7 linked regions of the Homo sapiens genome follow. The protein of the gene in region 1 purifies or fractionates together with the protein of each later gene. This does not show direct contact. Each region holds a gene or a part of one and is shown in the gene's direction. Other genes may lie near its edges.

What was found.
Region 2: the proteins of CTNNA3 (region 1) and VMA21 purify together in Homo sapiens (affinity purification with mass spectrometry; 2 studies listed by BioGRID and IntAct, with this or other methods). This does not show direct contact.
Region 3: the proteins of CTNNA3 (region 1) and PKP4 purify together in Homo sapiens (affinity purification with mass spectrometry; 2 studies listed by BioGRID and IntAct, with this or other methods). This does not show direct contact.
Region 4: the proteins of CTNNA3 (region 1) and CDH4 purify together in Homo sapiens (affinity purification with mass spectrometry; 2 studies listed by BioGRID and IntAct, with this or other methods). This does not show direct contact.
Region 5: the proteins of CTNNA3 (region 1) and CDH3 purify together in Homo sapiens (affinity purification with mass spectrometry; 2 studies listed by BioGRID and IntAct, with this or other methods). This does not show direct contact.
Region 6: the proteins of CTNNA3 (region 1) and FAM162A purify together in Homo sapiens (affinity purification with mass spectrometry; 2 studies listed by BioGRID and IntAct, with this or other methods). This does not show direct contact.
Region 7: the proteins of CTNNA3 (region 1) and MYCBP2 purify together in Homo sapiens (affinity purification with mass spectrometry; 2 studies listed by BioGRID and IntAct, with this or other methods). This does not show direct contact.

What each region holds. Positions count from the first base shown.
Region 1 is NC_000010.11:67,220,261-67,224,825, reverse strand, and holds part of CTNNA3 (catenin alpha-3), read left to right. Parts: intron 1-4,565. UniProt on the Homo sapiens protein: May be involved in formation of stretch-resistant cell-cell adhesion complexes.
Region 2 is NC_000023.11:151,403,706-151,408,270, forward strand, and holds part of VMA21 (vacuolar ATPase assembly integral membrane protein VMA21), read left to right. Parts: coding exon 1-35; intron 36-1,210; coding exon 1,211-1,353; 3' UTR 1,354-4,565. UniProt on the Homo sapiens protein: Required for the assembly of the V0 complex of the vacuolar ATPase (V-ATPase) in the endoplasmic reticulum.
Region 3 is NC_000002.12:158,679,121-158,682,674, forward strand, and holds the end of PKP4 (plakophilin-4), read left to right. Parts: intron 1-125; exon of another isoform or gene 126-269; intron 270-1,308; coding exon 1,309-1,557; 3' UTR 1,558-2,309; downstream 2,310-3,554. UniProt on the Homo sapiens protein: Plays a role as a regulator of Rho activity during cytokinesis. May play a role in junctional plaques.
Region 4 is NC_000020.11:61,919,892-61,924,456, forward strand, and holds part of CDH4 (cadherin-4 isoform 1 preproprotein), read left to right. Parts: intron 1-3,559; coding exon 3,560-3,813; intron 3,814-4,442; coding exon 4,443-4,565. UniProt on the Homo sapiens protein: Cadherins are calcium-dependent cell adhesion proteins. They preferentially interact with themselves in a homophilic manner in connecting cells; cadherins may thus contribute to the sorting of heterogeneous cell types.
Region 5 is NC_000016.10:68,676,019-68,680,583, forward strand, and holds part of CDH3 (cadherin-3 isoform 1 preproprotein), read left to right. Parts: intron 1-366; coding exon 367-452; intron 453-2,115; coding exon 2,116-2,259; intron 2,260-2,482; coding exon 2,483-2,638; intron 2,639-2,743; coding exon 2,744-2,888; intron 2,889-3,780; coding exon 3,781-3,956; intron 3,957-4,565. UniProt on the Homo sapiens protein: Cadherins are calcium-dependent cell adhesion proteins. They preferentially interact with themselves in a homophilic manner in connecting cells; cadherins may thus contribute to the sorting of heterogeneous cell types.
Region 6 is NC_000003.12:122,404,020-122,408,584, forward strand, and holds part of FAM162A (protein FAM162A), read left to right. Parts: intron 1-238; coding exon 239-344; intron 345-3,261; coding exon 3,262-3,370; intron 3,371-4,565. UniProt on the Homo sapiens protein: Proposed to be involved in regulation of apoptosis; the exact mechanism may differ between cell types/tissues.
Region 7 is NC_000013.11:77,092,500-77,097,064, reverse strand, and holds part of MYCBP2 (E3 ubiquitin-protein ligase MYCBP2), read left to right. Parts: intron 1-583; coding exon 584-753; intron 754-1,462; coding exon 1,463-1,707; intron 1,708-3,732; coding exon 3,733-3,900; intron 3,901-4,565. UniProt on the Homo sapiens protein: Atypical E3 ubiquitin-protein ligase which specifically mediates ubiquitination of threonine and serine residues on target proteins, instead of ubiquitinating lysine residues.

The sequences.
Region 1 (4,565 bases):
TCCTTCTCCCTGTGGTGCTTCCCCCTCCCCCAACCCCTGCTTCTCTGGCTGCCCTCCCAGTGGATCCCTGTGATGCCAGGCAGGAATGGCCTGACTGGGGACCCAGCGAGCTCCTAGGGACTTTCTGCTGCTTCCTCTCTATATTTTTTTTTGCTTGGCTCTTTAAATTGACTCAGCTCCAGGTAAGGTCAGAAACTTCTCCCGCAAACAGACCTTCATTTGCCCCAGTGGGGTTGTGTATTCAGGAGAGGAGGCTCTCCCTTTCCCACTTCCGCAGTTGGGGCACTCACAGTATTTGTGGTGTCTCCCAGATTTTGCAGGAGCAGTCCGCTTCCTTCAAAGGGTCTGTGGGTCCTCCCTCATAGGGATAACTTCTACTCACTGTTTAAGATTCACCTTCTCTGAAATCCCACCACTTATGACAACTTGGATGAACCTGAAGGACATTATGCTAAGTCAAATAAGCCCGGCACAGAAAGATAAATATTGTATGATTGTATTTATATGTGGAATCTAAACAAGTCAAACTCATAGAAGCAGTTTTACCATAGTTGCCAGGGGTTGGCATGTGGGGGAAACGGGGACATATTGGTCAAAGGGTATACACTTTCAATTATAAGATGAGTAAGTTCTAGGGACCTAACTCACAGCATGGTGAAGACAGTTAATAATAATGTATTGCTTACTTGAAATTTGCTAAGAGAATAGATCTTACATGTTCTCACAGCACATACACACAAACGCAAAGGGTAACTGTGTGGTGATGGATATATTGATTAATATGATTGTAGTAATCATTACACAATGTATATGTATATGAAAGCATCATATAGTACACCTTGAATCTACACAATTTTTATTTGTTAATTGTACCTCAATAAAGCTGGAAAAAAGATTCACATTCTCTGAGAAATTTTATTTAATCCCTTCAAACTGAGAGACTGTCCTCTATGCTGTGGGTAACTCTATTTTAGTTCCCATGTAAATGTGTTTATTTGTCTCCCCTCCTGATCTTTATCTTTGCATTTCCAACATTTAGCACACTGCCTTGATGCAAAGTCGAGGCTCAGCATAGGAGAGGCTCAACATAGTACAGGTTGAAGGAATGGTTGAATTAATTAACTGATAGCTTAAAGCCCTCCACTTGTATTTTTTAAAATAATATTCCTAAATATATTTTGTTCTCTTGCCAGGGTTAAAACTCATATGTTACTTCTCTACCCACTTGCACAGACTTTAAGGTCTTTTTAAATCCCATCTGTGTGTTTCTTCGTCAGCTGGAAACATTTAATGTCTTCTTAACTTGGAAATCTCCTGTGAGCTTTCTTCTGGAGCATTTAAAAAAAGATTATAAATAAGTATCAATCCTTGAGGAGCTGAATTCTTTATACTTCTCCATCCAAAGAAATCCCTGATTAACTTTACTGTTTAATGCCTATTTTGACTTTATGTAAAATTTTAGGGTAAATGGACAAACAAGAACCTTTGAACCTATGGTATCATCAGTTAAAATAAAACAACTACAAACACCACTACCACAACATACATTTAGGAGGTGACAGTCATTAATTTCTCTTTTATCTGTGTGCCTATTTACTACATTAAGTTTATCATGCTTGATGTCCTTTGGGAGAAATGGTCATGCCTTGTCAGTTTTCCTTACATAAACTCTGCCACCTGCCCCTTTGCCCCTGTCCACTGCTGTAACGTTATATTTGTTATGTTCACTGATCTAGTCCTTTTTCGCAGGCGTCAAGGACTTGCTATTTGGGCTCATGGATTCTGTAATTGCCTTGGGCAGAGATGACAAAGCATAGGCTCCAAATTCAAAATACATTTGTATTTTTAACATTTCAAAGTCCCCATGGCATTAAAGTTACTACAATTTACCATCAGATTACACATTGCTACCATTAGAGCAAAAGAAATAATTTTAACTTTAGCTTCTTGATTATAATCTATGTTCAAGTTTTTCACCTTTCAGAAACAAACTAAACCTTGACACTGTCCTTCTAAATAAAGAAGCATAATGTATAGGTCACTTCAGAGAGAATTATGTATTAAGTTGTGATTGTACAGTAATATCAGAGAATTTGCCTTACCTTTTTCTAAATATTTATACTTTTAATTATTACTCATCTGAGGAGCTGTGCATCCTTTCTAAACATTAAACTATTTATCCTCTAAGTTACACTGATGACTGTAGGTAGAGCTTGTACAACGTTGTGGGAAATACAAAAATCACTAAGATTATCAGTACAGAAACAGTACACCAAGTTTGACAGATGTAAGGAATAAAACAATTCCGTATTCTTTCTACACCTTTTCTCTATTTTCCACTTATATTCCATTTCTGATGTGCTATGTACTCAATCTTGTGAGAGGGTCGGCAGAAGTATCATTATCCCATTTTTACAGATAGAAAGACAGACACCGAAAGAGATGAGTTACCTAGCTCACAGTGCTAATGACAGAACTAAAACTAAAACCCAGACCACATATACAAGGGGGAAATCGTAGCAAGCCAAGAAAACCATAGTGTCTTTTCTTGGGTGATTAGTGACTATGAACAGTGGGTTGATAGCTACTTCTAACTGTCCTCCCTACATTTTGTAACGAAGTTAATCTCTCCAAAGCCTGAGTGAAGTAGCAGACAGTGTTTATTTTCAGAAGGGAAGGAACTAAAAATATAGTAGCACAAGCCATTTATTAACCTCATGCAACATTATTCCCAGAGTAGCAGAGTCTTGTGAAAAGGCATAAGGTTAGCAATCAGTAGACTTAGGTTTAGATCTCTGTTCCTTTACTAGTTTCTATCTCCTTGCACCAAACACCTGTTTAGTTAAAATAGGACTAATAATAGCAGCCTCATTCCCTCAAAGACTATTGTCATGATCAGTAAGATACTGTATAGAAGCACTTTATAAGCTACATGATATTATACAAATACAAGTCCTCATTCTGTGTAGCAAATAAGAAATTTTTCCACTTTGGGAGGCCGAGGCGGGCGGATCACAAGGTCAGAAGATCGAGACCATCCTGGCTAGCATGATGAAACCCCGTCCCTATTAAAAATACAAAAAATTAGCTGGGTGTGGTGGTGGGTGCCTGTAGTCTCAGCTACTCAGGAGGCCGAGGCAGGAGAACTGCATAAACCCAGGAGGCGGAGCTTGCAGTGAGCCTAGATCGCGCCACTGTACTCCAGCCTCGGCGACAGAGCGCGACTCTGTCATAAAAAAAGAAAAAAGAAAAAAATTTTTCCTATGTAGGAAATAATGTCACATAGTTTTTAGGATAAGGGCTTGGAAGTTATACTGACGTGGGTTACAATACAAGAAATACCACCATCTAGCTCTGCCACTTGGCTAAGAAACTTAGTCTCTTGAAACCTTAGTGTTTTGAGTTTTAAAATGGGAATAATCACATCTCTCATGAGTTTTTATAAAGATTATATGAAATGTTGTATATGAAGTGAATGAACTATTGTAAATGTCCCTTGAATTAGTTTTTTTTAACTTAAGCTTTTATTTGGGAGTAATTTTAGATTTACAGAAAAGTTGCAAAGGTGGTACAGAGAGTTCCCATTTACCTTTTTTCCAGTTTTCTCCATTGTTAATGCTGTATCTTACATTTGCCACTACAAAGAAATGGATACTGATGCATTGCTATTAACTATTAATAATGGTTATTTGGATTTCAGCAGTTTTTCATGAATGTTTTTTCTGTTCCAGGATCTAATCCTCAGTACCACACTGCATTTAGTTATGTCTCCCCAATCTTCTCTGTTCTGTGACAGCTTGTCAGTCCATCTCCTGTTTTCCATGATGTTAATGGTCTTGAGGAATACTGCCCAGGTGTCATTTAGGATGTTCACCAATCTCATTTTGTTTGTTGCTTTTCTCATGATTAGACTGGAATTATGGGTTCCTGGAGGGAATACCACAGAAATGGCATACTTTTCCTGTCACAGTATATCAAGGGGTACATGATATCCATGTGATATCACTGATTATGTTAAATTTCATCACTTGGTTAAGGTAGGGCTTGCCAGATTTTTTTCTTGTATATTGAGCTAGTTCTGATCGCCTATCACTTAGACAGGGCATTCTCTTTCCTCTCTTCTCTCTGATGTAATGCTATTCATTTACATTTACTGCAAATTGTCATCTCTGAAGAAATACCTTCTCGGACCATTCAGCCTAAAGCAGCTTTTCCTTTCAAGTCAATCTCTATGACACTTCACTTTTGTGTTTTCTTCATAGCATTTATTGTCACCTGAAATCATCTCGTATATTTGTTCATCTAGTTCATTGTTTGTCTGTAGGCCCTTTCCCCCCAAAAGAAAGAAGAACAAGGTCCTTGTAGGATTTTTTCATATCTGTACACTGGAGTCCAGCACAAGGGCTAGAATATGCTAAGTGCTCAGTAACTAATTGTTGAATAAATATCAAAGAAAGAATGATATAGGATTAATTTATTAGTATTTCTGAAAAAGAAAAATAGCTGAATGGTGGGAGGTTTCATTAGTGTTCTTAACTCAATTGGTCTAATTTTAACGGAGAGGT
Region 2 (4,565 bases), on another chromosome or scaffold:
GTTATATTTCACAACTAAATCTTACATATTTGAAGGTAATCTTAGACCCATTAAAACAAGATGTTTTCCCCCAATTTAAGATTCTGTGCTTTTATGACCTCTTTATATCTTTAAACTGGGTATTCTTATTTTTTTCTTGTTTAGCTTTTCAAAAAATCATATTGCTCATAATGAGTCTTTATGAAATAACTTATTGTTTCAGCTTGACAGTTTTCCTATGGTTTTCTGTGAAATAGCTTGCAAATCCTTTCTCTTAGTACCTTTTAAAGAATAGGGGTTGGCTGACATGGGAGGAGGAATTTTGGGGGAATGGACTTTAGTGTCAGATAACGGAAGGAAGAGAGAATGAAGTCCCCTTTTTGATGTTGAAATTTTTTTTTTTTTTTTGAGACAGTTTCACTCTTGTTGCACAGGCTGGAGTGCAATGGCGCGATCTCGGCTCACCGCAACCCCCGCCTCCCATGTTCAAGCGATTCTCCTGTCTCAGCCTCCTGAGTATCTGGGATTACAGGCACCCGCCACTACACCCGACTGATTTTTGGTATTTTTAGTAGAGACGGGGTTTCGCCATGTTGGCCAGGCTGGTCTCGAACTCGTGACCTCAGGTGATCCACCCGCCTCGGCCTCCCAGAGTGCTGGGATTACAAGCGTGAGCCACCGCACCCGGCCTGAAGTCTTTATAATTATGGTTTTGTTTAAAACAATGTTTGTTTGTTTGTTTGTTTGTTTTTGAGACGGAGTCTCGCTCAGTCACCCAGGCTGGAGTGCAGTGGTGCGATCTCGGCTCGCGTCAAGCTCTGCCTCCCAGGTTCACGCCATTCTGCTGCCTCAGCCTCCCGAGTAGCTGGGACTACAGGCGCCTGCCACTACGCCTGGCTAATTTTTTTTGTATTTTTAGTAGAGACGGGGTTTCACGGTGCTAGCCAGGATGGTTTCCATCTCCTGACCTCGTGATCTGCCCGTCTTGGCCTCCCAAAGTGCTGGGATTACAGGCGTGAGCCACTGCACCCGGCCAACATAATGTTCTTAATATATAGAAGGTACTCATATCTTTTAGTGAATACTTTATTCATTACCACCCAAAATATTACTTTTTAATTGCCTGACTAGTTAAATAAATACATCATAAAAATTAGGATGCTTTGTTTTTTTTTTTTGTACTTTGGTAAATTTTGCAATAAAATGGAAACTGTTTTTTTTCTCTTGATAGGCGCCCTTGGGATGTCCAATAGGGACAGCTATTTTTACGCTGCTATTGTTGCAGTGGTCGCCGTCCATGTGGTGCTGGCCCTCTTTGTGTATGTGGCCTGGAATGAAGGCTCACGACAGTGGCGTGAAGGCAAACAGGATTAAAGTGAACATCACCTTTTTATAGCATTAAATTCATTTTTTAAAATGATAAATGCTGGAGGGGGCCATCTGATTTGAATAAAGTTGAAAGAACATGTTAAAGTCAGTCTTAAGGAGTCACGTTTGAGTATGTAAATTTTGATCTTTCTAATATGTTGGTTTGTATATTCAGTTTTAACTGTATGAATCTGATTTGCAAATGAGAATTTGGAAAAGTTAGTTACAAAGAAATATGTTAATTTAATTAGACAATACTCTGGAAGGAATTTTATCTTCTTTCAACAAAACATGTTTTATAGTATTCTGACTTACGGTTGCTTTTGAGTTTTACTCATTTGGATATATTAAGATGCACACAGTGAAGCAAATTAAACTCCACTTTACGCTGGAATGCTTTCTTTAGCATGAAAATACCAGGTCCTTGGATTTGGGATTTTAATTTCCTATGGAAAGTTGCTTAAATTGTGGACACTGGAATTAATCTGAATGTCACTGAGGAATTTCACATGAAGTGTAATCCCTAGTCAATAAGAATTATCCATTACATTATTTTATGGGAAAACTAGGCTAAATTACATCCATTCAGGTAAAAGGACCTTAGCTTACTGAAGGATCTAAAGAGCAAAGCAAAGATCTCACTACTCAAACACTCAGCCTGCTTCCTTCAAGTCCCCTTGCAGGCCAGCTTTGTGCTTTGCAGACCAACTTTTTAATGAGATACTTTGCTTCCTCATTCAACATTGAAGCTAGGCTTCAATTAAAAGGTTCGAGGAAGCTCCATTTAAAATTGTTTTTTTTACTATTTTTTAAAATTGTAGTGTATATGATAGGAATTTGCATTTAAATATGTTCATTTTTGCATATGTTAGGAGTGGAAACAATCTGGAAAACATTTTTTTTTCATCCAAAAAGTATTCTCCTTGGGCATATCTGATGGAAAAAAACCTTGATTTTATTTTCGTATCTTTAGTCTGTGTTCTTTCTAGTTATTTGGTACTAATTATGTGCAATCTAAAAACACTCCCACAAGTATTTGTTTTTTAATTATAAAATCATAGTATATGTTCTTTGTAGAAAACTGGAAAAATACATATTCAAACAGGAAAAAAAATCAAAATTCCCCATAATGTTGCCATCTAAAAATAACCTCTATTTTAGTTGATATCCCGTATTCATTTTTGAAAGCCATTCCTTAATGCTAGTTTGATACACACTAAAAGTTTAGCTTACAAGTTCAAATTCTGCCAGCTTTTCCTGACAGCTATTTGCATTTTTTTCAGATGAGTGATTATTGGCCATTTTCTTTTTCTTTTTCTTTATTTTATTTATTTATTTTTTTGAGACAGAGTTTTGCTCTGTTGCCCAGGCTGGAGTGCAGTGGTGCAATCTCGGCTCACTGCAACCTCTGCCTCCTGGGTTCAAGTGATTCTCCACCTCAGCCTCCCAAGTAGCTGGGACTACGGATGCCTGCCACCACGCCTGGCTAATTTTTTTTTGTATTTTTTTGTAGAGACGGGGTTTCACCATGTTGTCCAGGCTAATCTTGAACTTGTGACCTCAGGTGATCCACCCGCCTCGGCCTCCGAAAGTGCTGGGATTACAGGCGTGAGCTACCACGCCCGGCCTTATTGACCATTTTCTAAATAAGCACATTCTATCTTTATTCTCTTAAAATTCAAATTTTCTGTTACTGATAATCCTAATACTAGGATTCTTGCTTAAGTATGTGAAACCATTACCGATTTGTTGTTCACATTTATTTTTTATGTTGTGAAACTGGACTAAAGGAATAGAGGGATGATTAGTCATAAAAGTCAAATAGCATTTGTGTTTAACTGTTGAGAAAAGTGAAAGATCAGTATGATTATTATGGAACTGTTTTTAATTCTTGCTTAAAGACTACAATTTTAGTATAATGACATTTGAGTCTAGGGTAGTATGTGGTAGATTTCTAGATGGTCCCTAATTAAGAAGTATTGTTGTATTTAGAATTGTCCACCTAATTTCTTTTTATATAATGCCAAGGTATTTCTTGTGCTTTTGGGATCTTATGCTGTTTGTAAAATGTTACTGTCCAATGTTGGATTATTGTTTTGGTTTCAGGCATTTGCTGAATAGGTGATGATACATGGGTATTTTTCTGCAAGTATTTAAACCAGGGGCATATGCAAAGGCAGTTGTAATTTCCTCTTGGAAAAAGCGCCAAATGTTTGAAGGTTAAAATCAAATGCTAGGGTTGATATTTAGGCTTATAACAAAATAGGCTTGTTTTCAAAGCAGTTTTTTCCTAGAGTTTTAACTGTTAACTCACTAGTTTGCTGCTGTTTTTAACTATGTTAAATAACATATGGTATTTGGCAAATAGATTTATTTTTCAAAATGTCTCACTAGTTTCCTTTTACACAATGTATATACTTCAAGATGTATAGAAAGGAAAGCTACAGTTGAGCCCTTATACATGTTTTAAGGTAGAAATATGTTCCCTATTGTTTGAAAACTGATTGTAAGAATAACCTCAGTTAGGAGATATAACTTGAAGTGTCAGTCCAAACTACTGATTTAACCCTATTTACGGTAACACATTACCTTCCTCACCTCCTGTTTGGCCCTGGAGAATGTAGTCCTTTTTCTCATTTGTGTTGAGAAATGAAAAGTCTGCTGTAGAATGTATCTGATGTCATTAGTTCTTCAAATGGATACCATTGTACATATAACAGTAGAATTTGGTTTGGGGTTGTTAGTGAAAAAAAATTTAAACCTGCCATTAAAAATCCCCATGTTTCATGGAAATCTAACAGAAATACATTGTAATAATTAGAACATTTTGTTTTCTTTTTTCTTTTTTTTTTTTTCGAGACGGAGTTTTGCCCTTCTTGCCCAGGCTGGAGTGCAAGGGCGCAATCTCGGCTCGCTGCAACCTCCGCCTCCCGGGTTCAAGCAGTTCTCCTGCCTCAGCCCCCTGAGTACCTCAGATGACAGGTGCGTGCCACCACACCCGGCTAATTTTTGTATTTTTAGTAGAGACGGGGTTTCACCATGTTAGCCAGGCTAGTCTCGAACTCCTGACCTCAGGTGATCCACCCGCCTCCGCCTCCCAAAGTGCTGGGATTACAGGTATCAGCCACCGTGCCTGGCCTAATAATTGGAACATTTTCATCATGAAAATGTCATCAGCTTTGCCAAAAGAAACAACCAATTGACTTGTTTGGCGTTTG
Region 3 (3,554 bases), on another chromosome or scaffold:
TCAGTGGTCAAGGTGGACTCAGCCCCTGCCGGGATGGACCTCACTGTGGGAGAGTGGGACTGGCGGTTATAACACACCCAGGCTTTGCTTTCATGAAGGGCCTGCAGTCAGTCTCAGGTCCTTACCAGTGCCATGGCGAACTTGGACCATCTGGTCTCTCCTCTTCCCTTTCAATGACACAGAGCAGCTGGAGTTTCCTAAAACAAGACTGTATCCTGTCCTTCAGATAAGGATGTGTTCTAAGACCTCTCCTTCTCGTCATCTTTTCTCTGTAGGTGGAAGAAAAAGAACTTTCCAAGTTATTCATAATTTATGCTATGGTTTTTTAGTCAGGAAAAATAGACCAGAATCATAACTCTGGCTTGAAAGGAGAATTTAGCTCTGAAATCCTTATAATGTTAGAATGCATTGAGTTCCAGGACATGACATTGGTTTCTATGTGGTAAATTTGTTACATCTTACTAAGTAGGGGGATTTGGGCATAATCAAGAACATAGACATAATAACCATCACAATTTGAAGAAATTAGTGTGAGGTCAAAGCTAAGACTGAACAAAAGGAAATGGAGAGCAGTGTGCCCTGTGTGGGTGCCCACGTGTGCCTGGTCTTGCCCACTTACAGATGGACTTAGCCCTGGCTTGGGGAAGCCTTTTCCTCTAGAACCATATTTGCTCACGTGTGTCTCCTAATTTTACTATTCTTCTGCCTTGAGATTGCTTATTCCTTTAATATTACAACTTACAGCAGAGTTTCCAAAGTGTGACTGTTGTTCACCTAGCCACATACATCTTTTAAAATGTAGGGGTGGACTCCATCTTCATATCTGAAGTAAATGTTCTAAAAGATGGTTCGGTAATTATACAATTATCCAAGGCCCAGAAACCCAGTCCTTGACTAAATTAGTGATGTGCTAATAATTCCCCTGTGTCAAACCAAATATCAAGACCATCCTCTCATTCGGCATGCCCAGGTAACAGGTGCCTCCACAGCTGAGCACACAGCAGGGCCTCCAGTAAAGAGGGGAGGTTTCTGGGGCCACCTGCCCTGAGATCTCAGGCTTTCTTGAGGCACCTGCTTCTCTAGAGGTCTTAGGACAGGAAACTCAGCAGCCTGCCTGAGAATGCAGCTTAAAATCCTTAGAGTCCAATAGTAAACGCATAGTGTGCACCAGAAACAGCTTTTAACCTTAAACTGCAAATATTGAATATTGCTTTAAAAATATGAAGCAGGAAGCCCACATTAATTTTCCTAACACATGTATTTTTAAAAAATTGCTTTTATTTATTTGCCTTTTCATTTTGTCAACAGCATCAACAGCTGTATTATAGTCAAGATGACTCCAACAGAAAGAACTTTGATGCATACAGATTGTATTTGCAGTCTCCTCATAGCTATGAAGATCCTTATTTTGATGACCGAGTTCACTTTCCAGCTTCTACTGATTACTCAACACAGTATGGACTGAAATCGACCACAAATTATGTAGACTTTTATTCCACTAAACGACCTTCTTATAGAGCAGAACAGTACCCAGGGTCCCCAGACTCATGGGTGTAGCATCAAGATGCCCAACAGAGGAACTCTTTCTTTCTAACCTTGTTCAGATTGAGGTGAAAAGTCCATCTTGCTGATTTGATGATTGAAATGTGAAAGTGAAGTGGAAGGAATGAATGAAGTGTGTTTTTTTTTTCTTTTTTGAGGAATTATCAGGGAAGTGAGGAAATGTTTGGGAGAGGACTTTCTAAGCTCTATTTAGGTGTTAGATCTAATTACTTATAGATTCTGTAGTCTGGTGAAGGTGTGGGTGACGTGATGAGAGGTTTGAGAAATGGGTGAAATGAAATGGGGGATATGTAGGTCAAATCAAATTAAAGATGATTTTTTTAATGTGAATAAAGTTATGTTCTGATAGTTTGTACAGAAAAAATAAAATGGATGCCCATGTTTTATTGCTATTACTAAATGTCAAGATTGTATGCTATTATGTCTTGTAAATTTCTTTTGTTGGTGTAAATATGGAAATGCCACATTGGTTAAGTGCCATCATTTGTAATGCAATGTGTCACTTGAAAAGAGATTTGAAGAAACTGACAACTTCAAAAACAAATGAGAAGCCCAAGGAACTGTGAGCAATTAAAAGCAAACCGCGACACCCTTTGTCTCCACCACACATAGTGTACTTTGGAAGCACAACGTCCAGGCTGGTACCGCAGCGCCATGCCCATTCCTCGCCTCATTCATAGGACACTTCACTGCCATTTTCTATTCACATAAAAGAAAAATAAATGTGGAAATTTCATCCTTGGAAATGTGTTCTCTATTCTTTTTAAATTTTCTGTATGTATATGGAAAAGCAGATTTAATAAACACAAATCTAACTGCATGTTGGAAACAGCTTAAATATATCCAACTATTTTGGACTTTTCCTAGTTTTATATATACTTTGTGAGATGGACCACACCAAAGAATTAAGCTATGAACTTTCCTTCTCTGACAATCTAGGTATTTTTATTTCTTGGAATCTATTTCAAATCTAGTACCCTTCACAGTTTTATCATGTTTTTCTATATGGCAGCCCGGCCATAACTAAATTGATATAACTAAATTGATACCTTTTTTAGGCATCATTTTTAAGAACTCAGTAACTTCATAAGAACAGTGGTTGGGCATTTATTTGGTTGGCACCAATATAATAAAACAAATTCTAAATTATGATCTTGTTGAGTAATTCCTGGATTAGGAATGGGGTAGGGGAAAGAAGCCCCACAGTAGGGTAGGCAGAGGTCCCCATAGCACCACACAGCATTACTTGGGAGCTTTTCTCCATCTGTGGAGGCAATGAGGGACACCAGGCCCAAAGTCTGAGGCCTTCTCAGGTCTTGCAGTTTCCACCCTTCAGTCCTAGCTCCTGGATCTTTGTTGGTGTAAATATGGAAATGCCACATTGGTTAAGTGCCATCATGGAAAACTAGGAACTAGTTTACCTGTAGCTGTACTAGGAAAACTAGGAACTAACGCCCATGGCAAGTCAAACCCAGAAGTGTTGTCTTAGCTCAATATACCCTGCAAGTGTAATACAAATCGCAGATTAAAACATTTGTACTTATATTTGTGAGTATATGGAAAGACACCCAAGAGAAAACTGCGTTTTCTTGCCGAATGGACAGCAGCCCAAGATGAGCATCCAAAGTGAAATGGAAATACCAGTGCGAGCATGAAAGTTCCTAAGATCTGCAAGCCGGGAGCCCTTCTGGGGTGCCTTCTGAAGAACACTCGAGCCAGCTTGCGGAGTCGACTGCCCAGCTACTGAGCCCTGGCTGCCTCATACCTGGCGGAGCTCAGCAGACAGCCCTTGTTAGATGGCAGAGGTCGCCAGATGTTCCTGAGGAACTGGCATCAGGACTTCTGGGACGTAACCACTTCAGTTTCCAATCACTGACTTCCCTGAACCTGGTATCTTCAGATCTGGGTTGAAGCTGAAGGCTCAGTTGGGGAATCAGGAAAACAAGGGAATCGGAGCCAGCCCAAGCCAACTGACAATAACTTTCTTTTAG
Region 4 (4,565 bases), on another chromosome or scaffold:
GTGGAAGCATGGTATCGTGATTATGTGGAAGCGTGGTGTCACGGTGATTGCGTGGAAGCGTGTTGTGATTGTGTGGAAGCGTGGTATCGCGGTGATTGCATGGAAGTGTGGTGTCACAGTGATTGCGTGGAAGCGTGTCGTGATTGTGTGGAAGCATGGTATCGTGATTGTGTGGAAGCGTGGTGTCACGGTGATTGCGTGGAAGCATGTTGTGATTGGAAGCGTGTCACGGTGATTGCGTGGAAGCGTGGTTTTGTGATTGCATGGAAGCATGGCGTCACAGTGACTGCGTGGAAGCGTGGTGTCATGGTGACTGCGTGGAAGCATGGTGTCACGGTGATTGCATGGAAGCGTGGTGTCACAGTGATTGCATGGAAGCGTGTCATGATTGTGTGGAAGCATGGTATCGTGATTGTGTGGAAGCGTGGTGTGATTGTGTGGAAGCGTGGTGTCATAGTGATTGCATGGAAGCGTGTCGTGATTGGAAGCGTGGTGTCGCGGTGATTGTGTGGAAGTGTGGTGTGATTGCGTGGAAGCGTGTCTTGGTGATTGCATGGAAATGTGTGATTGCATGGAAGCGCAGTGTCACGGTGATTGTGTGGAAGCGTGTCATGGTGATTATGTGGAAGTGTGGTGTCGTGATGATTGCATGGAAGCACCGTGTCATGGTGATTGTGTGGAAATGTGGTGTGATTGCGTGGAAGCGTGGTGTCACAGTGATTGCATGGAAGTGTGGTGTCACAGTGATTGCATGGAAGCGTGGTGTCACAGTGACTGCATGGAAGCGTGGTGTCGTGATGATTGCATGGAAGCGTGGTGTCACGGTGATTGCATGGAAGCGTGGTGTGGTGATTGCATGGAAGCATGGTGTCACAGTAATTGCATGGAAGCGTGGTATCATGGTGATTGCGTGGAAGCGTGGTGTCGTGATTGCATGGAAACGTGGTGTGATTGCATGGAAGCATGGTGTCACAGTAATTGCATGGAAGTGTGGTGTCATGGTGATTGCATGGAAGCGTGGTGTCGTGGTGATTGCATGGAAGCATGGTGTCACAGTAATTGCATGGAAGCATGTCATGGTGATTGCGTGGAAGTGTGGTGTCGTGATTGCATGGAAGCGTTGTGTCACAGTAATTGCATGGAAGCGTGTCATGGTGATTGCGTGGAAGCGTGGTGTCGTGATTGCATGGAAGCATTGTGTCACAGTAATTGCATGGAAGCGTGGTGTCACGGTGATTGTGTGGAAGCGTGGTGTCATGATTGCATGGAAGCGTGGTGTCACAGTGATTGCATGGAAGCGTGGTGTCGTGATTGCATGGAAGCACTGTGTCACAGTAATTGCATGGAAGCATGGTGTCACGGTGATTGCGTGGAAGCGTGGTGTCACAGTGATTGCATGGAAGCGTGGTGTCATGGTGATTGCATGGAAGCATGGTGTTGTGTAAATCTCACAGTGATAGGCACGCTGCTGCGTGGCAATCTGCACTTTTTGCAGGAGTACGTTTTTTTAATTACCAGACCTCATGATCCTCCGCACCTAAATCTGTCAGAATGCATCACCCTCAAAAGCACATTTTGGGCAGGGTGCAGTGGCCCACGCCTGTCATCCCAGCACTTTGGGAGGCCGAGGCAGGCGGATCACCTGAGGTCAGAAGTTCAAGACCAGCCTGGTCAACATAGTGAAACCTCGTCTCTACTAAAAATATAAAAATTAGCCAGGCATGGTGGCGGGCACCTGTAATCCCAGCTACTGGGGAGGCTGAGGCAGGAGAATCACTTGAAGCCAGGAGGCAGAGGTTGCAGTGAGCCGAGATCATGCCACTGCACTCCAGCCTGGCAATGGAGGAAGACTCTGTCAAAAAAAAAAAAAAAAAAAAATCAAAGCTCTATGATAAGAAATAGAGAGCAAACTCACAAACTCACACTCCCAGCTGTGACCCTGACCCCATTCCTTCCCTCTGATAACGATGATCATTTTTATTAGTTTTTGGTTTATCCTCACGATGTTTCTTTCTGCAAATATGAGCAAATACATATACAAATCATATTTTTCTCTCTCTTTTGCACAAAAGGTGCACACTATGTGGGTTGCTTTTTTGCCCACCAGTAGATCCTGGAAAGCTCTCCTCTTCAGTACACAGAGGGTGTTCTCTTTCCTCTTTACGGCTGCAAGTGTCTCCCCATGCAGATGTACTGCAGGCTGTGCAGCCCACCATTGCTGATGGATGTTTGGGTCATTTCCAGCATATTGTCTCGACAGATACTACGCAATGAATACTCTTATGCATATGTTACTTTGCACGTATCTAAGCAGAATATTTTAATGCAATTGAGACACAATGTGTTGTGTTTTTTTCCAGTGAAACTGTTGCAAGCTTTGCCATTGAACGTCTCAGGGCCCCAAGCTTTTTCCATGTAACTTCCCTCCCTCCCCAAAATGTGTAGGAAAGGCTTGAGCGAAGCTTTTCTGATAATACAGCATCACTGCAGAACCGTAGCTCTAGCGTTTATCAGCCAGGGTCCTGGTGCACCAGAAGGGCACCAAAGAATTGTGTGAATGCAGGGGCCAAGTGCAGCAGTGATGGGAACTGCAGACCTGGCATGGTTCTGTCCGGGGCTGCGGTTACAAGTCACCACAAACCAGGTGGGTTACAACAATAGAACTGTCTTCTGTTCCAGCTCTGCGAGTCAGAGACATAAAATCAAGGTGCCGGCAGGAACGGTCTCGCTTAGGAGGTTGTAGAGGAGAACCCACTGCCTGCCTCTCTCCCGTTTCTTGGCCTGTAGCTGCCTCACTCCAGACTGCACCTCTGTCGCCACATGGCTCCTCCCTGCACCTGTGTGTCTCAAATATCCCTCTCCCTTTCTCTCTGTTTTGAAATTTTGGAGAGCCTTGCTCTGTCACCCAGGCTAGAGTGCAATGGTGTGATCACAGTGCACCACAGCCTCAAACTCCTGGGCTCAAGCGATCCTCCCACCTTAGCGTCCTGAAGCCCTGGGATTACAGGCGTGCATGACCGCACCCAGCCCTGCCTGTCTGTTATGAGGGCCTCTGTCTTTAACTTACATGTACAAAGACGCTATTTCCAAATAAGGGCTCATTCACAGGTCCCAGGTGGACATGTCTTTTGGGGGCCACCATCTGACCCTCCGCAACTGGTGAGGCCCCGCTGGCCAACAACGTCAGGAGCCTTCCCCACACTAGGCTCAAAGGAGGAAGGTAGGGACGGGGTTACCAGGCCAGGAAGAGGGGCCGCCCAGCGGGGGCTGCAGCCCCCCCAGGAGGAGCCCAGCTTCTGCCTCAGCCCAGCATGGGACAGGGGCTGGGAGGCCTAGACCTCCTCCCTCTCTCCTCCCATCGGCCAAACCCAGCAGGAAGCCAGAAGATAAGGGTGCCTGGGAGATGGGACCCTTTGGGGCCTCCTGGCTAAAGAGCAGAGCAGAGAAGAGCTGGACATGGCTCAGGGAGGGGTGGAGACCAACCTTCCCATGTGTCCCCCCATGCCCACTCCCACGGGAGCTGTGCCAGGTCACTCCCAGCCCTGATCTGTTGTTCCAGGCAGTCGACTACGAGCTCAACAGAGCTTTCATGCTGACAGTGATGGTGTCCAACCAGGCGCCCCTGGCCAGCGGAATCCAGATGTCCTTCCAGTCCACGGCAGGGGTGACCATCTCCATCATGGACATCAACGAGGCTCCCTACTTCCCCTCAAACCACAAGCTGATCCGCCTGGAGGAGGGCGTGCCCCCCGGCACCGTGCTGACCACGTTTTCAGCTGTGGACCCTGACCGGTTCATGCAGCAGGCTGTGAGGTGGGTGCACAGGACATGCCTCGTCCCTGCCTGCAGCTTCCCAGGTTCCATACAGAAGGGTCCAGAAATACCCCATGAAACCCACAGCCCAGAATTCCCCCAGATGGGTGGTCGGGGGCATCTCCAACCTAAGGCGTCCTTCCAGGAGGGAGCCGCAGCCCCTTAGTCCCAGATAGCCAGATGCAGCCCCTGATCAATCGTGAGTGTTGTGACCGGTGCTTACTCATTCAGCACTGTCTAGACACAGGCCGGCCCGATCCTGGCCACACTCTCATAGCTATAAGACTCAGCAACCTCCTGCCCTCTCTGCTCCTCAGCGTCCTTGTCCGTTCGATGGGGACAATGAGGGCGTCTGCCCACAGGGTCCTTGTGAGTTGAGACCACCCACTACTGGATGAGCTTGGTGCCCGTAGCCACTGCGTGGCCTGTCCTGTTGTGGGGCCGGGGGGGAGGGTGCCAGTCCAACGTGGAGGGGAAGCCCTAGAGGAGGACAAGGCCTGGGGGGCTCCAAGGAGACAGAGACACTGGCCCAGGCCCAGGCCCTGGAGGTGTGGCCAAGGAGGCCTGGGATCCAGGGCAGCCCCGCCCACCCCCAGCCTTACCTCCCCCTGCACTTGTGGTCTCCGCAGATACTCAAAGCTGTCAGACCCAGCGAGCTGGCTGCACATCAATGCCACCAACGGCCAGATCACCACGGCGGCAGTGCTGGACCGTGAGTCCCTCTACACCAAAAACAACGTCTACGAGGCCAC
Region 5 (4,565 bases), on another chromosome or scaffold:
TCTCACAGCCTTCAGAAAATCTTCTGCCTCTAGCTATGACCTTAGTCAACCCCATGTCACATGAGGCCACCTGGGGCTAATGTCCATGAATGTCTATGATCTTGGTCCTCTGGGACCAAGAACAAAGAAGAGTTTGACCCACAAACTGACCACCAGGCGATCTTCCCTCTCGAAACCAAACTTGGAAGCCTCCTCTGAAACTTGTATTAGTCACACTCCTGGTCAGAGAAAGTAAGCCAAGTCTCCCTTCTGCAGCCACTTAGCAGTCCTGGATCCAGTCAGAGGACTCTTGTCAGTCTTGTTTTCCTGGGGCAACTTCCAGAATACTCCTGCCTTCCTAATGCTCTCTCTTCCCCTTCCCCACAGTATTCATGGGCTGCCCTGGGCAAGAGCCAGCTCTGTTTAGCACTGATAATGATGACTTCACTGTGCGGAATGGCGAGACAGTCCAGGTAAAATACCATGTCCACCTGCAGGACAAAAGAAAGATGTTCTCTGTGCATGCCCAAATTGCTGGCCAGGAGCCCTTGGTTGCTGTGGCCATTGTGAGCCAAGTCAGCCCTTCAGAGGAGGTAGTGTTAGTCCTCAGCTGTCCACAGCTTGGGTGTGAGCACTGATCTAAGGGGGGTAGTGCTTGCAGCTACCCAACAGTGGTGCCTGAGGTCAGGCCAGTGGAGCCAAGAGCTGCCTTGTGAGTAATCACCCACTGTACTGAGTCCCTCGGATTCCCTCTCCCACCTTCCTTTACTTCCTTCCCTTATCATCCATGTTAACCCCAACTGAAAGCAGCTCTAAATGCAGGCCTGCCAATCCCATGAGCCTCCAGGAAGATACATCTGGGGTGCTTGGCCACACTTCGTTTTAATTTTTGAATAGCTAATATAGCCACATGGTTCAAAAATAAAAAATAATAATAAGCTATACAATAAATAATCTCCCCTTGTTTGCCTCCATTTGCCCAAAGCCCCCTTCACCCCTTCACGCAGTTAACCACTGTTCCCAGTTTCTTTCCTTCCAGAGTTTATATATAGTCTATACTTACATGTGTTACATATTTATTTATATTGTACATGTTTTTACATGTTACCTATTTCGTATATATACATATATAAAAACAGATTCTTTTCCTTATGCAAAAGCTAAGATGCTGTTCACATGTCTGCACCTTTCTTTTTCTACTTAACAGTGTATCAGCACAGCACAATGTCTACCCTCTTTCCACAGATAGCCACTATTAGTTTTTTTCTGTATTCTCCCTGACTTCATCCATGTACAAGAAAATATGACTATATGGTCTTATTTCCTACCCTTTTACACAAAAGGTGGAACAGTACCTGGCACATATTAAGCACAATGTGTTTGTTAAATAAAATGCTAAACTCTATTAAGCTGCCCTATACCTTAATCTTTCCATTTGACAGCATAAATCAAAAATCAGGCCGAATGCGGTGGCTCACGCGTGTAATCCCAGCACTTTGGGAGGCCGAGGCGGGTGGCTTGCTTGAGGTCAGGAGTTCGAGACCAGCCTGGCCAATATGGTGAAACTCTGTCTCTACTAAAAATACAAAAATTAGCTGGGCGTGGTGGCAGATGCCTGTAATCCCAGCTACTCAGGAGGCTGAGGCAGGAGAATCACTTGAACCTGGGAGGCAGAGGTTGCAGTGAGCTGAGATCGTGCCACTGCACTCCAGCCTGGGTGGCAGAGCGAGACTCCGTCTCAAAAAAAGGAAAAGAAAGAAAAAAAGATCTTTCCCTTTTGGCACATAGAGAGCATACTCATTCTTATTTTTAGAGCTGCATAGTATTCCACTAGATGGATGTGCTGTAGTATATTTCACTGGTCCTCCTGTATAAGTAAACACCGAGTTTCCCTTGCAATAGGCTCATCTAGGTCTCCTCACCCTTAACTTTTTTTTTTTTTTAATTTAACTTAGGGTCTCGCTATCTTGCCCAGGCTGCTCTGGAACTCCTGGGCTCAAGTGACCCTCCCAAAGTACTGGGATTATAGGCGTGAGCTACCATGCCCAGCCACCCTTTTAACTCTTATAGGTGAGAGGATGTTGAGCATGTCCCAGCTATTTGCACATCTGGGTTAAGGAGTTTCTCTCCTTGCAGGAAAGAAGGTCACTGAAGGAAAGGAATCCATTGAAGATCTTCCCATCCAAACGTATCTTACGAAGACACAAGAGAGATTGGGTGGTTGCTCCAATATCTGTCCCTGAAAATGGCAAGGGTCCCTTCCCCCAGAGACTGAATCAGGTACGACTGTGCCTTCTCCTGGGAAGCATTGGTGGCTCCAGGGACCCCCATCCAAAGGCCTGCATGAGATTTCTTGCTACTGAATGTGGGGGCTGAGACAGAAAAACCTCTCCTGTTCAGTGAGCAGATTCTCCTATGGCAGTGCCCCTCTTCACAGAGGACTCTTTGTCACAGTCATGGGATATTTGTTACTTTGTCAGCTGCCATTTTCTTTTCCCTCCAGCTCAAGTCTAATAAAGATAGAGACACCAAGATTTTCTACAGCATCACGGGGCCGGGGGCAGACAGCCCCCCTGAGGGTGTCTTCGCTGTAGAGAAGGAGACAGGCTGGTTGTTGTTGAATAAGCCACTGGACCGGGAGGAGATTGCCAAGTATGAGGCAAGTAGCCTTTAGTGTCTACTGTAAATGTCCCCTCAGAAGTGGGATCCTAGGCCTGGTGAGGTGGGTGGCACCGGGCTGACCCCAGAGCTGTGTACCCCACAGCTCTTTGGCCACGCTGTGTCAGAGAATGGTGCCTCAGTGGAGGACCCCATGAACATCTCCATCATCGTGACCGACCAGAATGACCACAAGCCCAAGTTTACCCAGGACACCTTCCGAGGGAGTGTCTTAGAGGGAGTCCTACCAGGTAAGAGGACTGGGAAGGGGACTGCTACGGGGCTGGGCCCACACCCTTAAATGCTAAAAGATCCCACCATACCTGATTTCCTTGGCTGTGTATCAGATTACTTGGGATCTTCTTAAAAATCCAGATTTCCCCCCTTCCATCCCAAGGTTCCTGAATAAGAATGATCCTAGAGCAGAGCTCTGGAATCTGTATATTTGAAATTTTCCCTAAAGCTTCAGATGATCAGCCAAGCTTGGGAACCACTAGCTTTGGAGCTTCAAAGACCTAGATTTGAATCTTGGCTTTGCCCTCTTTACCGGCTGTGATCCTGGGCATATTCTTGACCTCTGAGCCTCACTTCTCACATCTAAAAATGGGAATAATATCAACTTTGAAGAGTGGTGAAGATTAGAAATACCATGTGCAGACTGTTAGGTAATACAGAGCGCCTAATGCGAAGCTCTTGAGAGCATGGCAGCCACAGGGAATGCAGCAAAGACTGGAGTGTTAGAACATGGCTGATGGAGGCTGGGCGCGGTGGCCCACGCCTGGAACCCTAGAACTTCAGGAGCCTAGGCAGGCACATCACTTGAGATCAGGAGTTTAAGACCAGCTGGGCCAACATGGTGAAATCCTATCTCTACTAAAAATATTAAAAAATTAGCCGGGCGTGGTGGCGGGCACTTGTAATCCCAGCCACTCAGGAGGCTGAGGCAGGAGAATCACTTGAACCCAGGAGGCAGAGGTTGCAGTGAGTCGAGATCACACCATTGCACTCCAGCCTGGGTGATAGAGTGAGACTTCATCTCAAAAAAAAAAAAAAAAAAAAAAAAGAAAAGAAAAAAAGAGTTCCAGAAGTAGACAGGGCTGGAGTTGGAACTGGGAGGAAAAGATACTCATCCCTTCTCTCCAGGTACTTCTGTGATGCAGGTGACAGCCACGGATGAGGATGATGCCATCTACACCTACAATGGGGTGGTTGCTTACTCCATCCATAGCCAAGAACCAAAGGACCCACACGACCTCATGTTCACCATTCACCGGAGCACAGGCACCATCAGCGTCATCTCCAGTGGCCTGGACCGGGAAGTGAGTGGCCCTTAGGGAAAGTACTGCCTACCCAGACTTGCCCAGGCTGGGAACTGACTCTGAGAGCAGAAGCTCCTATCCCTGCCCACAAAGCCCAAGGCAGAACAGTGAGGACCCACGTCAGCTGGGATGGCCACTGCTGGGTTCACATGCCATGCCCCTGGTTCCTTGGGCCTGTGGCCCGCTGCCAGCCAATCTCGTTAAATCTCCTCCAGGGCTGGGAGGCAGCTGTAAAATGCCTACTTTTGGTATTTTCTGTAGGTTTTCTCATTTCCTCTCAGAGTGGCTCACTTAGTGTGCACATTACCCAAATTGGTCCCTTATGTGCCACAAAGTAGAATTAGCTCCATGGATACTGGATTTGCTGCCTGTTTCCTAATTGATACCTTTATCCAAATCCTCACTCAAAACTCTTTTTCTGAGGCCAGGCACAGTGGCTCACGCATGTAATCTCAGCACTTTGGGAGGCCAAGGCGGGAGGATCACTTGAGGTCAAGAGTTCAAGACCAGCCTGGCCAACATGGTGAAACCCTGTCTCTACTAAAAATACAAAAATTAGCTGGGCGTGGTGGCAGGCACCTGTAATCCCAGCTACTTGGGAGGCTGAGG
Region 6 (4,565 bases), on another chromosome or scaffold:
TTTTCTTAGTCTGCTGAAGTCAGACAAGCTCCTCACCGTTTCCTTGGGATTTTATAATCTTATTTGGAAAATGAAGCATCCTAAGAAATTCCATTCAAATAAAGTTCTAATTAACTTGAGGTTTCTCAGTGTTTCTGTTTAGTGACTAGTTAAAAAGCACTAATACCATTTTTCTGTTGTTAAATTTGAGAGTTATAATCTCAAACACATAAAATTTCTTGTCTGGTTTTTCTCATAGGCACTTACAACAGAGTGCCTTTACACAAACCTACGGATTGGCAGAAAAAGATCCTCATATGGTCAGGTCGCTTCAAAAAGGAAGATGAAATCCCAGAGACTGTCTCGTGAGTGCTGAATTTAGTATTACAAGCAGCTTTCATTTCTCACTGATCTAAGGGAAAAGCAATGCCTCTGAGTTCCAACTGTTTAAAACTTTTCAACCAAATTTGAAAACATTTTTCACTTTTCCAAATGTTTTATCTTTGGTAAGTACTTGGAATATAAACAATGCTAGAAAACCTGTGTCTTATCATTGTTAAGTTACACAGTGACTGGTGAAGAACTGTCAGGTACTCTGAAGTCAATTGATTATTTGATTTCATCCCCTGGCTACAGAAGTGTGACTTTTTTAAAGTTTGTTTTTAATCTAGGTATATAAATTAAGTACCATTGACAATGACTGTATTCCCCCAAATCCACTTAAGTACTCAACCTTAGGTGTAAAAGTATTTAATTGCAATATTCTGGAATTCAGGAAAGAGTGCTTCCTGTCACCAACTTCCTTAAACCTAAGGGAAGGGATCTTGGCTGGGATCATGGAACTTTTTCAGAGTTTGTAGATGATGAGTGCAGGTTCCTCCAACCCAGTTTCTCAACTCAGTACTATTGATATTTGGGGCTTGATAATGCTTTGTGGCAGGGGGGTGTCCTATTTGTTGGAAGATGTTTGGCAGCATCCCCGGCTTCTGCCCCCTACATGCCCGTAGCATTGCGGCAGTGCTGACAACCAGAAATGTCTCCAGACACTGCCAAATGTCCAAGGGGCACGAGCGGGGTGGGAATCTCCCCTGGTTGAGAACCAGTGCCCTAGCCTCATGTTAAAGACCCTGACTGGCTGGCATCTTGGCTAAAAAGAGATTCTGAGAAATAGATGTCATCTCCTCTGTGAGGCATCATCCTATTCAGGGACAGGGACTTCAGACAAAGCTCGTGGAAGTTCCCTGTCAGCAAGAAACTATTCCTGGATCTTCTGGTCTCTGGTTTCAAGTCATGATTGAAAAAGATCTGAGCTCATTCAGGATTTCTTTCCCAGGGAAATATGTAGTATTTACTTTCTGTTTACAACAGCTTTAATAGAGCTTTTCTGCTTCTGCCAGTCAAATTGATAGCACATTACTTTAACTAGAATTATTTCAGCAGGAAAGCCCTGGTTTTTCTTAGCTCAAGTCATGTATTCTTCTGGGAAATAAGAGAATACTGGAAATAACAGTGACATCAGGTTCTTGCCTATGCCCTAATTCTTCCTATACCAGCAGAAAATAAGCTGGTAGACACCCATGGCCTTAACAGATGCTGTATAGGCTTTGCTATAGAACACCTTCCTCAGTCTGCCTAATAGTTGGTTCCAAGATCCCCTCAGGCCCAAAATACTACCTCACGAATCACTCTGGAAGGGTCTTTTCTGGGCCTGGGCAGCCATTTGTCCTTGTGCTGGTAGTTCTGAACAGGCACTGCTTAACTTGCCCATTCCTATTACTCCCTATGGAATGGATTACTTTTCATGAGGATCATGGCACTTCAAATCCCATAAAATACCGTCAACATGGGAAGTCAGTTTGTGGTTAGTGGAATCTCAGGTGCTCCTAACTGACCAATTTGACAGTCCTTAGCAGTTGTCTTGGGTTCCTGCCAGCCTGCAGGCCCAGCTTAAGTGCCTGGAGAACCCCGTCCACATGCTGCCTCACAGGTCCCAGCTCCTACATCACATTGTACATGGCTTCATCATCTTCCTCCTTCCACCTGCAACATCCCAGACTCTTTGCCTCCTTCCAAGCATTTTTAAAGTACTCCCCTCCCCAATTTTAAAAGTAATATATGTTAAATATCTCAGGGGAAAGAAAGCACTTCAATCCCATCATCTAGAGATAATCACTTCCTATTTACACATCTACTGAGAAGGCCATAAGTTAATCCTGGGCCCCATAAGGGCTCCACATCCCCTGCCTTGAGGTTCTGCCAGACACCGAGGTAACAGAATCGTGACCACCAGGTGTGGCAATGCATGCCTATAGCCCCGGCTGCTCAGGAGGCTGAGGCAGGAGGATCGCTTCAGTCTAAGATTTTGAGTCAGCAACATGGTGAGACCCCATCTCTTTAAATAAAGTAAATTAAAAATAGAACCATGACTCACTGCCTACTTGCAAAATCACCAAGGTAGATTGGCCTTTAGACTCTTCTATATTAAGCCTCTTAGGTTTCACACAAGAATGATGAACCAACCATCAACTTTTTTTTAAGGCACATGGGTCTGTATTCAGTAGATAGGTTAGAAGAGCTGCACTTTGGCACTTGCCAAAGACCACAATATCAAGTTCACTGTCACTCAATTTTAGCAAAACATTTGTTTAAAAAGATAAATATTGAGGAGCATTGCTTAAAGGATCTTCCTACTATTTTAGATATTCTCAAATCTATTCTGGGTTCAAGACAGAGAGCAAAAAGCTGGGTATATGGAGCACATTGGTTAACTTTCTCCAATGTTTGATCATTCTGAATTGTGCTTTGTGTTGAAACATATGAAGCTTATTGTAGTATCTGTTGTCGAGATGTTTTCAGACGATGACTACATCACATAATGTCTTCTTAAGAACCTCAGGGAGAAATGACTGTTTCACTTCTAGCATTTATAGGCTGCTTGGAAACCTGAGAGCCAAAATTGGGGTCCACCATAGCAAGTGTAGATTAATATGCCTTGCCCATTTTTTTTTTTTGGCTTTGTTCTTGACTTCTCTTTTTGTTTTCTTCTTTTGTACTTAATTGTGTGCTATCCTGTATTTTATACATAAATGAGTTACGAAAAATGCCTCATCCTCCCCAAAGTCCTATGAGATCTCTAGGCCCTTTTTAAAGAGATCTCTAGGTCTCCCTATTTATATTTATAGACACTACTACATTTTGAATTTATACACAGCCTTTTATCCTGAGCAACTTCAGAAAGGGAAAAGTTAATAACTTTCTCTCATGATCTCATTGTATTACTAGGTTGGAGATGCTTGATGCTGCAAAGAACAAGATGCGAGTGAAGATCAGCTATCTAATGATTGCCCTGACGGTGGTAGGATGCATCTTCATGGTTATTGAGGGCAAGAAGGTGAGAAGGGGTTTCTTCTCTATCCAGTATGTATGTTCTCCACCAAGAACCTAGAGTAAATCAGGGATTGACCCTTGTATTTACCCTCTGAGAAGAGGAGGCTACTTTCTACATTACATGAGAAAAGATAAGCAAAAAAATAAGACATATTGGGAACAAGCCTGGAATATCATCCTTGGGGATAGATAGCAAATCCTAACTTTGGCGTGGTGAAGAAGGACTAGATTCATTTTGTGTAATGTAAATTTAAAAAGTGTTTCTGATGACAGGTGTCATAATGTAAATTAAGAAATAGGACACTGGCATATTTAATCACCCACTGCATATTTCCAGAGTGCTCTTGGTACCCAAGTGTATTTACCCTCACCATAACTGCCTTCAGCATGGTGAGCTTTCTTAGCGGGGTTCTTTATTTGAAGCTCAGCCAGACAGGGCCATGTGTCTAAGGACCACAGCTCCTAAGCAGTACATAGGAATACAAGTCCAGAAATCTTTAGCACAGATTATAATTAATAGCTATCACTAATTGAACACTCACTGCATTCCAGGTACTTTTCTAGCTGGTATCTCATCTGAACCTCACAAAAACACTGTAAGATAAGTATTATTAGGACCTGATTTATAGATGAGGAAAACTATAGCTTAGAAAGCTTTAGTAACTTGCCCAAGGCCACATATCTCCTTAATGACGAGCCACAGTGTGAACCTAGACCCAATTCAGGTAATAGGAAAATTCCTCCCATTTATTGAGTGCTTATTATGTAACAGGCACTGTTAAGCTCACTTAATCACCCCCATAACCCTAAGAGGTAAATAGTTTTCCCAAACTCACACAGCTAACAAGTGGCAAGATAAAAATCTAGACCCAAGTTTGCAGGTTACCAAACCTCATACTATACTATCTTGCTATTAAGCCATAGTTATTTTTATATTCAGCAGCTTTGGTCAAATTCTTCTTTTAATACCATGTATAATTCTATATATCACAGCTTCCATGTGGAAAGTGATGTCTTACAACTACTTTAAGATACTAAAAAGGTCCTTCTATACACGCACTCTTAACTGACTTTCTTATCCTCAGTAATTCCAGAGTAAAAGGAAATGTACTTTTGGCTGTCTTCATTCTTGCAGTTAAATGGAAATACTGACCATTTTAGGCTGACCTCATGGGAGTACGAAGGGGCAAATGTGCTGA
Region 7 (4,565 bases), on another chromosome or scaffold:
ACACACAGGGCATCTCCTTTGATTTTACTATTTTCCTGTTCAGAATTGCAAATTAAATTAGATTAGATTGATTTCTATAGGCTTTTTCCTACGGAAGTGATATTGTTTTATCAGAAGACTGCATTTTCAGTAAATGTAATGATTTCTGTAACATTGACTAATATTCCAAATTCACCTAATACAAATTTGGTTAATTTTTTTCTTTGTCTACATATTATACCTCAAATGTCTTATGAATATGTGATTTCTGAAAATATATCATTGTTATAGAACTTTTATACTTGTATTGTCTAATTTTATTGACATAATTAAGTATATCTAAATATACCTATATTCTATCTCTCTTTTAATATGCCTGATTAGAAACTAAGTATCTCTCATATTTGGGGCATCATTTAATTGATTGCTTTTTGATCAAGTAAGCTATTTTTCTGATATAGTTAATAGCCTGAAAAATAAGATATCTACTTCAGTATTTTGCTTTCTTTGAGAAGGTAAATCTGTCATTAATGTATGAGTAATAAGGATCAAACTATTAAGGACACTTGGAGTGTTAAATATTTATTTTTGGTATTGTTTCAAGGTTGTGGCCGATATGCTGGTGGACAAGGTTACAATAGCATTGGGCATTTTTGTGGAGGATGGGCTGGTAACTGTGGTGATGGTGGCATAGGAGGAAGCACTTGGTATCTGGTATGTGATCGCTGTAGAGAAAAATACCTCCGCGAAAAACAGGCTGCTGCAAGGGAGAAGGTATTTTATTCCATTTGGAGCTATACTTTTAATGATATGGATACACTGTATAAAAATACCTTGTTATAATCTTACTACATCAGATAATTCCACATAGTTGATATTAAAAGATCAGCTTTTATAATGGAAATCATATACAAATTTAATATTTGTACTAAGTCAAATGCTTTTAATTTTAAAAATTAACTATATATTGGAATAACACTAGATAACCTCTGCTACATATGCCTTATTGACAAATATTTGTTGTGTAACTCTTTATTATTAATTGTCTGTTATTCTCTCTATGGAGAGCTTTCCTTTTCACCTTCTTTCTCTTTTCCTCTTTTTTTGGCTCCTTTGTTTTCCTATTCCATATCTACTCTCTCTTTTCTTTATTCACTCTAGTGGCACCTAACTAAAAAATTTCACTGAATACACGCACTGAAATGATTTACTTTTTAAAAAAATGAATTACATTTAGATTTAACTAGTTAGGTGTTAAATTTTTCTGAAGAAGGAAAGGAAGTATAGTTTGTGTTTGATACAAAATTGTCTTGGTCAGCCCAGGATGAATATGAAATGAATGTTGTTTTTTATAATCTTATTATCTTAAAATAGCTTTACAAGTGTTTAATAATTTTTATTGGAAACTCAAAATACTTAGCTTAAGAAACTAAGGATTTTAATGTAAGTCAGAAAAGATTAGTTTGATTTTTTTCTTCGCCAGGTCAAACAATCTAGGAGAAAACCAATGCAAGTCAAGACCCCTCGTGCCTTGCCCACCATGGAAGCTCACCAGGTGATTAAAGCCAATGCACTCTTCCTGCTGTCCCTGAGCAGTGCAGCAGAACCGAGCATTCTGTGTTACCATCCTGCAAAGCCATTCCAATCTCAGTTGCCCAGTGTAAAAGAAGGCATTTCTGAGGATCTTCCTGTGAAAATGCCTTGTCTCTACCTGCAGACATTAGCTAGGTAATAAAATTTTGCTGTTGTTTTTTAATCACCTTTGGATTAACAGCGATTGTTTATTGATATCTAGGGTAGTTCGGTATTTGACCTACACTTTATTAGCTATTGTGTACTATAAACAAACTTCCAGGCATTTATTTTTTGAGTTGCCTTGACTGACATAATGACTTTATGGTAATAGGTATTTAAAAAACTATAAAAATGCTTCATCAATTTGCATTGTATTAATACACAACATGTCTTAGAAAATAAGACTATAGCTATCTTTTACTCTTTGGTAGGCTGACTTCACTCTGTTAGTGCGAAATGCTGAAGTGTAAAGAAAGTGTGTTTCCTTAGCAGTCTTTTATTTCGTAAATTATTCATTCTGTTAGCATTTAAATGAATACCAACTGGGCACCTACCAGCCTTGTGCTAGGCCCTGAATGTATGAATATAACAAAATCCTGGCTTCTATGTACTCATACTCGGATGTCAAGTCAGACATGTTAGTGAAACATTTGAAATGCCATGTGAGGAGTGCTACAATAGAAGTATGTATGTAAGATGCTGTTAGAGCATAAAAGATGGAGAGTATCTGAATCTTCCCCAGGAAATCAGAAAAGGCTTCCCAGAGGGTCTGAGCCTTTAGTAGAGTCTCAAAGGATAAATAGAAATCTGTCAGGCAAGCGACAGGAAGAAAGCGACTCTTGGAAGAATAACCCAGGTGAGTAAAGACACAAATGAAATCTCATTACACATTTCAGGAATCACGGGTTGTTAAAGGACTGGCTACTGGAGGAAATATGTGAAAGCCCGTTCAAAGTGATTGGTTCACCCAAGTAATGTCGGGCTCTGTAGCCCAGGTTAAGATTGCATTTTATCCCATGAGCAGAGGAAACAGTGGAAGAATTTTAAACAGAGAAATACATGAACTGGTTTGCAATTAAAAAATCACTGTGGAATGTGGAAGCTAATGTGGAGACTAGATAAAAGTGCATTACTGGAGATAGAAACCTGTTAGTATTCTGTTTTCATATATTGGACCTCAGTGGTGCAGCCTGTACTTTCACACATCATGCACTGACACTCCAAAAGAGCCTTTCATATACCAAAACCAAATTTTTTTCATCAGCTGACAAATGAAGGTAATCTAGATATTGCCCACTGACATGGCTTGCCGACCAACAGTTCCATTTTGGAAATTGTCCTCTTTGTGTAGCAGAGTTGTATGGTTTTTAAAATTTTGTGCTTACTATTACAATAAAATGAATAAGCAACAAAAATGAAAATATCAGACTAAGTACATTTGAGACTGAGGTGGAAATCATCAGTATGCCAAAATACAATAGATCTTTAGTGTGAATCACACCACTCAGTGGACTTAGGTTAGCAACTATTTGTTCATTTTGAAAAGGAAAGAATCAAATTGTAAAACGTGAAAAATGCTAACACAGCATAATTATAGATTTTTTTCTTTTTAGCTGTCTGGGGAATGGGCACCCCTTCCACCCTGAACCACAGAAAATTTCATATATCTAATATTTTTCAAATATGATCTTATGTATGTTCCTACCCAAAAAAGTAACTGCTTGTATTTCAGTGGTCTGTGCAAGAAATAATAAGCATGAACCAAGGCAGTGATGATAGGGAATGAGAAGAGAGAATGGCTCTGAGAGGAAACCTAATATCATGGGCTTGAAAGATGATGATGATAGAGGGCTAAGCCTACTACAACACTGGAAATATTTTAGCTTAAGCAACTGGATGGTTGGTGGGCTTATTCACCAAAACACTGGAAGATGGAAAAGTTCTCAAAAGGAAAGAAACTGAGTTCAATTTTGGATTTGAAATGTTCGTGGTACCTGGAATGTTGATGAATAAAATTATCAGACTTTTATTTTCACCTACCTACATCTACGATTATTTTAATGCTTTGCCTTTAACTATGATTTACATGTGCTGCTTTTCCTGTTATGAAAGAGATTAAAAATGGAGAGGATCTGTATTGCCATCATGCTTTAAGTTATTGGGTTTGATTTAATGCAGGCATCATCATGAAAATTTTGTGGGCTATCAAGATGACAATCTATTCCAGGATGAAATGAGATATCTACGTTCAACATCTGTACCTGCCCCGTATATATCAGTAACTCCTGATGCAAGTCCTAATGTATTTGAAGAGCCAGAGAGCAATATGAAGTCTATGCCACCAAGGTATTTTAGTTCTCTCCTGTCTGTTGAATAGCTAGTGTTTGGTGGAAGAAAGACTTTGAACTAGAAAAGAGTCCTGTAGAAGTTCTTTAATACATCTGTGAGCCAGTTTTGCTAACTGCTGGAGCAGTAAGAAAAAGCATACATGTATGACTAAGGTAAGGTCCTTGATGGGAGAGGCAGACTAGTTGGAGAGAAGAGATCAACTAGTGAAGGAATTAAAGATTACATTATATGACATTACTTAATGCTGTAGTAAATCAGAGTAGGGAAGGGTTACTTTGAGTTTTCATGGGAGCAGTGGCATTGAAAATAAATCTTAAACTTCTTGGATTATTGTTTACAGTGCCTCCTAACTTAGGTATGGTAGTATCAGAGTAAAGAGCTTCTCGGAAAGCTGAATAGAAACTTGTTACAATAATGTAATACACAAGAAAATAGAGGCCAGGCGCTGTGGCTCACACCTGTAATCCCAGCACTTTGGGAGGCCAAGGCGGGTGGATCACCTGAGGTCAGGAGTTTGAGACCAGCCTGACCAACATGGTGAAACCCTGTCTTTACTAAAAATACAAAAAATTAGCCGAGCATGGTGACACACACCTGTAATCCCAGCTACTCGGGAGGCTGAGGCAGGAGAATTACTTGAACCTGGGAGGCAGAGGTTGCAG